Linked DNA regions of Homo sapiens. The protein of the gene in region 1 interacts with the protein of each later gene in a pairwise test. Each region holds a gene or a part of one and is shown on either strand. Other genes may lie near its edges. The genes, in order: CHD1L and XRCC1.

Evidence for each region.
Region 2: the proteins of CHD1L (region 1) and XRCC1 come close enough for resonance energy transfer, tested with the Homo sapiens proteins (one study listed by BioGRID).

Annotation. Positions count from the first base shown.
Region 1 is NC_000001.11:147,249,179-147,252,986, forward strand, and holds part of CHD1L (chromodomain-helicase-DNA-binding protein 1-like), read left to right. Parts: intron 1-3,444; coding exon 3,445-3,557; intron 3,558-3,808. UniProt on the Homo sapiens protein: ATP-dependent chromatin remodeler that mediates chromatin-remodeling following DNA damage.
Region 2 is NC_000019.10:43,551,328-43,555,135, reverse strand, and holds part of XRCC1 (DNA repair protein XRCC1), read left to right. Parts: intron 1-331; coding exon 332-490; intron 491-1,452; coding exon 1,453-1,527; intron 1,528-1,623; coding exon 1,624-1,735; intron 1,736-2,044; coding exon 2,045-2,154; intron 2,155-2,227; coding exon 2,228-2,339; intron 2,340-2,860; coding exon 2,861-3,119; intron 3,120-3,448; coding exon 3,449-3,565; intron 3,566-3,808. UniProt on the Homo sapiens protein: Scaffold protein involved in DNA single-strand break repair by mediating the assembly of DNA break repair protein complexes. Negatively regulates ADP-ribosyltransferase activity of PARP1 during base-excision repair in order to prevent excessive PARP1 activity.

The DNA.
Region 1 (3,808 bases):
TTTCTTGATTACAGGAGTCTGGATTGACAGTTCTTTTCTTTCGATATTTGAAACATGTTGTGGCATTTCTTTCTGGCCTTTAAGATTTCTGACAAGAAATCTGCTTGCATTTGAATAGTTTTTCCTCTTTAAGTAAGGTGTTGTTTGTTTTTTTTCTGGCTGCATTTAAGATATTTTCTTTGTCTTTTGTTTTCAGCATTTTAATAATTACATATCTTGGTGTGTATTTTTTTTTTTTTTTTTTTTGAGATAGAGTCTCTCTCTGTTGCCAGGCTGGAGCGCAGTGGCGCTATCTCAGCTCACTGCAACCTCCGCCTCCTGGGTTCAAGCAATTTTCGTGCCTCAGCCTCCCGAGTAGCTGGGACTACAGGCACCCGCCACCACGCCCAGCTAATTTTTGTATTTTTAGTAGAGATGGGGTTTCACCATGTTGGCCAGGATGGTCTCAATCTCTTGACCTCGTGATCCGCCTGCCTCGGCCTCCCAAAGTGCTGGGATTACAGGCGTGAGCCACCGCGCCCGGCAATGTTTTGTTATGTTTGCGGTTTACTCAGTTTCTTGAAACTGTAGCTCTTTAGCCAGATTTGGGAAGTTTTCAGCTATTATTTATTTAAGTACTTTTTCAGCCCTATCCTCCTTCACCTGTTTTTATTGGACAACATTGAACAAATGTTAGATCTTTTGTGGTAGTCCTGAAGGTCCCGGAGGGTCATTTGTTTTCAGTCTGCTTTCTCTCTCTTCTGATTGTAATCTCTCTATAACTTCTATTCTGTAGAGTTCACTGATTCTTTCCTCACTTCCTTCCATTCTGCTGTTGATCCCATCAACAGCATCAGTAGCCTTTTATTTTGGTTATATTATTTTTCAGTTTTTAAAATTTCCCTTTGGTCTTTATATCTTTTATTTCTTTGCTGAAATTTCTGTTTCTTACCTGAGGTTTCCTGTTTTTTTCAGTTGTTCAAGTGCATTCATAACTACTTGTTGAAGCATTTTATCATTACTGCTTTAAGGTCTTTGTCAGATAATTCTACCGTCTGTGTCATCTGGGTGTTGGCACCTATTGATTATCTTTTTTCGTTCAGTTTGAAATCTTCCCAGTTCTTGATATAATGAATGATTTTTATAAGAATTGGAGCCAGGCATTTTTTTTAAATCATGTTTAAACCTCCTGTTTGACTGTCTTTGTCTGATGCTGCTCTGGCAGGGGAAGAGGGTCTGCTGCCTTGTTAGTGCCAGGTGGGGATAGAAGTCCAGGCTCCCCCTTCAGCCTCTGTCCACATCTGGGGATTGGGAAGGGGCTCCTCCATCCTGCTGGGTGAGGGTGGGAGTTGTGGCTCCCTCCTGAGTCTCTACTGATCCTGCAGGGGAAAGCTAAGGGGTAGGGCCTCGTTATTGGTTGGTGGGGATAAAAATCCCAGCTCCCTACTTGGCCTTCTCTTATACCATCCTGGCTGGGGTGCTGGGGCACTCGTTGTAGCTGTAGGTAGAAGTCTATGCTTTCCACTTAGCCTTTGCTGGTGGGACCACAGGTTTATTCCTGTGGTGTTTACTAGAATAGAGCAGTTATTATATAAAAGTTTCCTGTCTTGCTAGGCTGCCATTTTCTAGCTGGAGCAGGCTTGTGAGGGGTGGGGGTGGTATGGTTTGGCTGTGTCCCCAACCACATCTCACCCTGAATTGTAATAATCTCCACGTGTCAAGGGTGGTGCCAGGTGGAGATAATTGAATCATGGGGTCAGTTCCCCCATATTATTCTCATGGTAGTGAATAAATCTCACAAGATCTGATGGTTTTATAAATGGGAGTTCCCTGCACAAGCTCTCTTGCCTGCTGCCATGTAAGATGTGACTTTGCCCCTCATTTGCCTTCCACCATGATTGTGAGGCCTCTCCATCCATGTGGAATTGTGAGTCAATTAAACCTCTTTCCTTTATAAATTACCCAATCTCAGGTATTATTAGCAGCATGAGAAGAGACTAATATTGGGAGGTGTTCTTATTTGTTTTGGTTTTGGTCTACATCAGTTGGTGTTTCCAGTTGGCTGATTTCTTGAACTGTCAGACTGGGATATATAAAGCAAAAATAAATTCCAGGGAACTTACTACCCTGCCTTCCGCAGGCCCAAGGTCCCTAGCCAGTCTGCTTCTTCACTACACCTTTCAGAGTTTTATGCTTGTTTTCTGTAGCATGTCTAGGGTTTTTATTTGTACTTAGCAAGAGGAATAAGGGAAAGTAAGTATACTCCCATCAGAAACAGAAATCTCTGAATTTTCTGATTATAAAATGGGGATAATACCTACTCCATAGAATCATTATAAGCATTAAATGAGATACTGTAATTTATTTATTTATTTTTATTATTATTTTTTTGAGACAGTCTCGCTCTGTTGCCAAGGCTGTAGTGCAGTGGCGCGATCTCGGCTTACTACAACCTCCGCCTCCCGGGTTCAAGCAATTCCCCCTGCCTCAGCCTCCCAAGTAGCTAGGATTACAGGTGCCCGCCACTACACCCAGCTAATTTTTGTATTATTTATTAGAGACAGGTTTTCACCATGTTGGCCAGGCTGGTCTTGATCTTCTGACCTCAGGTGATCTGCCTGCCTCAGCCTCCCAAAGTGCTGGGATTACAGGCGTGAGATACTGTAATTTATGTAAAGTGTTTACTACTACTCTGGTATTTGTAAGTGCCTAAGAAAAATAACTTATTTTTTAAATTTTGTACAATTATGTATTTTGAAGATTTTTTTAAAGGTATAAGTTAAACCAGATAGTTATGTTTTTGCTAATAGTTCTTATATAAAGTATGTTTAAGGTCTTTCACCTTCCCAAGATATGGCTATTCTTTGAAATTGGATTTTTTTCACCAAGGGAAAGAGAAAAGAGAGTAAGTTCCGTATTAATTTCACACGTTTTCTGCCATCCCTGTACACAGTTAAATACCCTTTGTGAAACATCATTTCCATTCTTAAAAACAGCGCTTCTGTGTTGAAGCATTATTCAGTGTAGTCCTAAGTTTTTTCCTTTAGCATTGATGGCATATTTAAATGGGTGCAATTAAACAAGCAGACACATGTACAATCCATGTGTTGTTGCTCTTTGTTAAGTTGCATCAGTAATGCCTCATTTCCCAGAATGGACACTGGTGTGAGTCTCAGGCAGTATAGAGGCCAGATCCCAAGTTGACTTTCTCATTTATCAAGTGAATCAGGTAACAATGACAGGCTACTTTGGGGCTTTGAATATAAAGGTGAATAAGTCTGCTCAAAAAGTAGTTTGGAAGTCAGCAGATGTTTAGATATCCATAACTCCTCAGCAAAAGATACGTCCAGTGAGGTTTAGGGTTATGTGAATTTAGGCTGTGTTCCTCATTCAAACTCTTAGAACATTGCCTCTGCATGTACTGAAATGTCTGCTCTTCGGATTTGCTGTATTTTTTGTTTCTAGGGATTCACCTACGCTCTTACCAGCTGGAGGGAGTAAACTGGCTCGCCCAGCGCTTCCATTGTCAGAATGGCTGTATCCTGGGAGATGAGATGGGCCTGGGGAAGACCTGCCAGGTGTGTTACTATGCGACGAGTACTGCTCACCGCCACTGCGATACTTCCTTATAACTCATTCTGGAGCTGAGAGCTCTGGAGCTAAAACAAAGCTCAGTTTCACAAATGTCCCTGGGATCCAGGCTAACTGGCTCTTGCACCGGGAAAGGGCCTTCCCTGTACAGTCTTCTCTGCCTCAGTCATTGCAGTTCCCCTACTGACTTTATTCAGGGCCAGCAAATGCTACTTGTCCTTTCTTTGGATGTTCACAT
Region 2 (3,808 bases), on another chromosome or scaffold:
GAATATTGTGCCAGTTTACTGAATATTCTCTGCCGGGAAAGTTCCTTAGGACATGTAGCCCGCTGTATTGCCAGATATGGAAGACTCCATGGGAGAATTTAGATAAGGGTCGCTCACATCTGGAGGATAAAGAGATCCCTCTGGGGCCTGTGTCAGGGCAGGACTGACTCAAGGCCTAGAAACAAAGGGTCTGGAGACATCTAGGCCCAAGCTACATTCTAGTGACTCCCAGTCCCCTGTGTGGGCCCTGTGCCCTCTTCCCCAGCCCCTAGAAGCTCTCATCTAAGCCAACCTGCCCTGGTTCTCATGCACTGTGGCTTCTCCCACCCAGGTCCTTCTGGTCACCTCATCTTTCATGTCCCCTTCCGAGAGCCGCAGTGGCTCAAACCCCAACCGCGTTCGCATGTTTGGGCCTGACAAGCTGGTCCGGGCAGCCGCCGAGAAGCGCTGGGACCGGGTCAAAATTGTTTGCAGCCAGCCCTACAGCAAGGTACCTAGGGTGGGAGCCAGGGTGCAGAGTCCTTGGTCCTGGGCAAGGAGGGAAATAAGGGCCAATATTGAGTCCCATAGGGCTGGGAGGAGTAGACAGCTGGTGTCCCATGGGATTATGGGGAGGCTGGGTCCCTGCGTTCCCTGAAATGGGTTTGGGATCTTTCCTGTAATGAGAAGTTTCATCTCCCGGAGGAATCTAGGAAGGGTGAACTGCAGCATCTCAGAGGGGAATCGGAGGAGGGGAACTGACTTGTTAGAGAGGTGGCCTAGTAGAGTGGGCCTAGTAGTTAACATCAGGAGATCTGGCGTCTGATTACTGAGTTCACGTCCTGGCTATACCACTTTTTAGCTGTGTGATCTTGGGCAAGTGACTTACGCTCTCTGGGCCTCCATTGCCTGATCCTTACAGGGTTGCTGTAGGTTAAGGGATGCTAAAAGCTGTGGTAACAGTGAGACTGGAGTATGTGATGATGCCACACACTAAAGGTGTGCTTCTTGCCCAGGTAACTGTCCTGGGGAGTGTTTAGCCTGTCAGCTGGCTTCTCCTTATGAGGTCGTGCAGGGACCCAGACTTCTCCTATTTTCTGGCTCTGCATCCAGCTGGCAGAGGAGAGAGCCTGGAACACTTCTGTGTTCTGGAAGTGGCACGCAGCACTCCCTCCCATTCCACAGGCAGGAGTTTGTGCATAGGGCAGTGAATTCGCTGGGACACCTAGTAGACTCTGCCAATTGCCCAAAGAGCTAATGCGTGAAAAGGGCTTGGAGCCAGACTCAGAGTTAGGGCTCAGTCATAACAGCTTAATCCTATAATTGTCATCACCATCGCCAGGGCCCCTCCTTCAACATGGGTGTTCATGAGAGGGAAGGAGCCAGGAAGAGGTTTCCCTGAGTGAAAAGGGTCTTGGGCCCTGGCCTCTGTCCTTGGGCCAGACTCCCTGACTCCCACCCCTCCTTTCCCAGGACTCCCCCTTTGGCTTGAGTTTTGTACGGTTTCATAGCCCCCCAGACAAAGATGAGGCAGAGGCCCCGTCCCAGGTAAGCTGTACCTGTCACTCCCCATGGCCTTCTCCCTGCCTCTCCACCCCCACCTGCCAGCAGCCCACCTATAATACTGACCTTGCGGGACCTTAGAAGGTGACAGTGACCAAGCTTGGCCAGTTCCGTGTGAAGGAGGAGGATGAGAGCGCCAACTCTCTGAGGCCGGGGGCTCTCTTCTTCAGCCGGATCAACAAGACATCCCCAGGTGAGCTCGGACAACGTGGGTCCTGAGTGAGTAGGGTTGAGACCTAGACTCGTGGGTCTGAGGGTAGAGGGGGCTGGGGCTCAGATTCCTGGGTCTGAGGGAGGAGGGTAGTGGAGTCCTGGACTCCTGGGTCTCAGGGTGGAGGAAGGTGGGCCTGGCCTCTTGTGTCCTGAGGGTTGAGAGGTCTGGAGGCTGGGACTCCTGGATCACTGGTGGGTTTTGGCAACAATATTCTGTGTCCCATAGATAGGAGTGAAAGGGTCTTGGGGCTCAGCCCTCTCATCCTGGATCCACTTTCTCCCTTCATAGTCACAGCCAGCGACCCAGCAGGACCTAGCTATGCAGCTGCTACCCTCCAGGCTTCTAGTGCTGCCTCCTCAGCCTCTCCAGTCTCCAGGGCCATAGGCAGCACCTCCAAGGTGAAATCATCAGACTTTGGTGGGGTGGAGGAGGAGAGAAGCTGGAGGCCTCAATCCATCCCCATCCCCTCAGCCCCAGGAGTCTCCCAAAGGGAAGAGGAAGTTGGATTTGAACCAAGAAGAAAAGAAGACCCCCAGCAAACCACCAGCCCAGCTGTCGCCATCTGTTCCCAAGAGACCTAAATGTGAGCTAACTAGATCCCTTGTTTCCACAGGGGCCTGTGCTCCTGTGTCCTAGGGGAAGCGGGGCTGGAGCCTGCTGTCCTGAATCTGAGGGAGGAAGGGCTGGGGGCCTGGACCCCTGGGTCTGAGGGAGGAGGGGCTGGGGGCCTGGATTCCTGAATCCGAGGGAGGAGGGGCTGAGGGCCTAAACCCCTGGGTCTGAGGGAGGAGGGGCTGGGAGCCTGGACCCCTGGGTCTGAGAGAGGAGGGGTTGGGGGCCTGGATCCCTGGGTCTGAGGGAGGAGGGGCTGGGGGCCTGGACTCCTGGGCCTGAGGGAGGAGGGGCTGGGGGCCTGGACTCCTGGGTCTGAGGGAGGAGGGGCTGGGGGCCTGGACCCCTGGGTCTGAGGGGGGAGGGGCTGGGGCCTGGATTGCTGGGTCTGAGGGAGGAGGGTCTGGGGCCTGGACTGCTGGGTCTGAGGGAGGAGGGGCTGGGGGTTGACCCCCAGTGGTGCTAACCTAATCTACTCTTTGTCTTCTCCAGTGCCAGCTCCAACTCGTACCCCAGCCACAGCCCCAGTCCCTGCCCGAGCACAGGGGGCAGTGACAGGCAAACCCCGAGGAGAAGGCACCGAGCCCAGACGACCCCGAGCTGGCCCAGAGGAGCTGGGGAAGATCCTTCAGGGTGTGGTAGTGGTGCTGAGTGGCTTCCAGAACCCCTTCCGCTCCGAGCTGCGAGATAAGGCCCTAGAGCTTGGGGCCAAGTATCGGCCAGACTGGACCCGGGACAGCACGCACCTCATGTAGGCTTGCGCCCCCCTCCCTGCGCCGCTGCAGTTTCTCCCCCAGCTCCCTGTGTCTCCTCCACCTTGTGCTTTCTCTGTGTCCACTATGCTGCATGCTTTCTCTCTCTCTCACTTGCTTTCTTTCTCACTGCATTCTGTAGCCTTTGTCTTCTCTCTGATTTTTGCATCTCTCCCTTGGTCTCCAACCTCTTTTTGTTTCTCCCACCTCAATCTCATGATCTGTCTGTCTGTCTGTCTCTCTCTCTCTCTGTCTGTCTCCCCTGTCTCGTTCCCCTTTGCCCCTCAGATCACACCTAACTGGCATCTTCACTTCTGCCCCCCACCAGCTGTGCCTTTGCCAACACCCCCAAGTACAGCCAGGTCCTAGGCCTGGGAGGCCGCATCGTGCGTAAGGAGTGGGTGCTGGACTGTCACCGCATGCGTCGGCGGCTGCCCTCCCAGAGGTAAGGCCTCACACGCCAACCCTGCTCCTTATCCTGTGCTGGGCAATGCCAGGAATCTGGAGGGGAGTCAGACTGGGGCCTGCCAGCGGAGAACACAGGTGGTCCCAGCCCAGAGCCAGCAGACTACTGAGAGGAGCGGGGCAGGGGCTGGGGTACTCCAGATGAGGGAAGGAGGACCTGCCTGGGAGGTCACAGAGGGCTCTGTGAAGCCTGCTTATCAGAAAAGGCTGGAGGAGCAGTTTG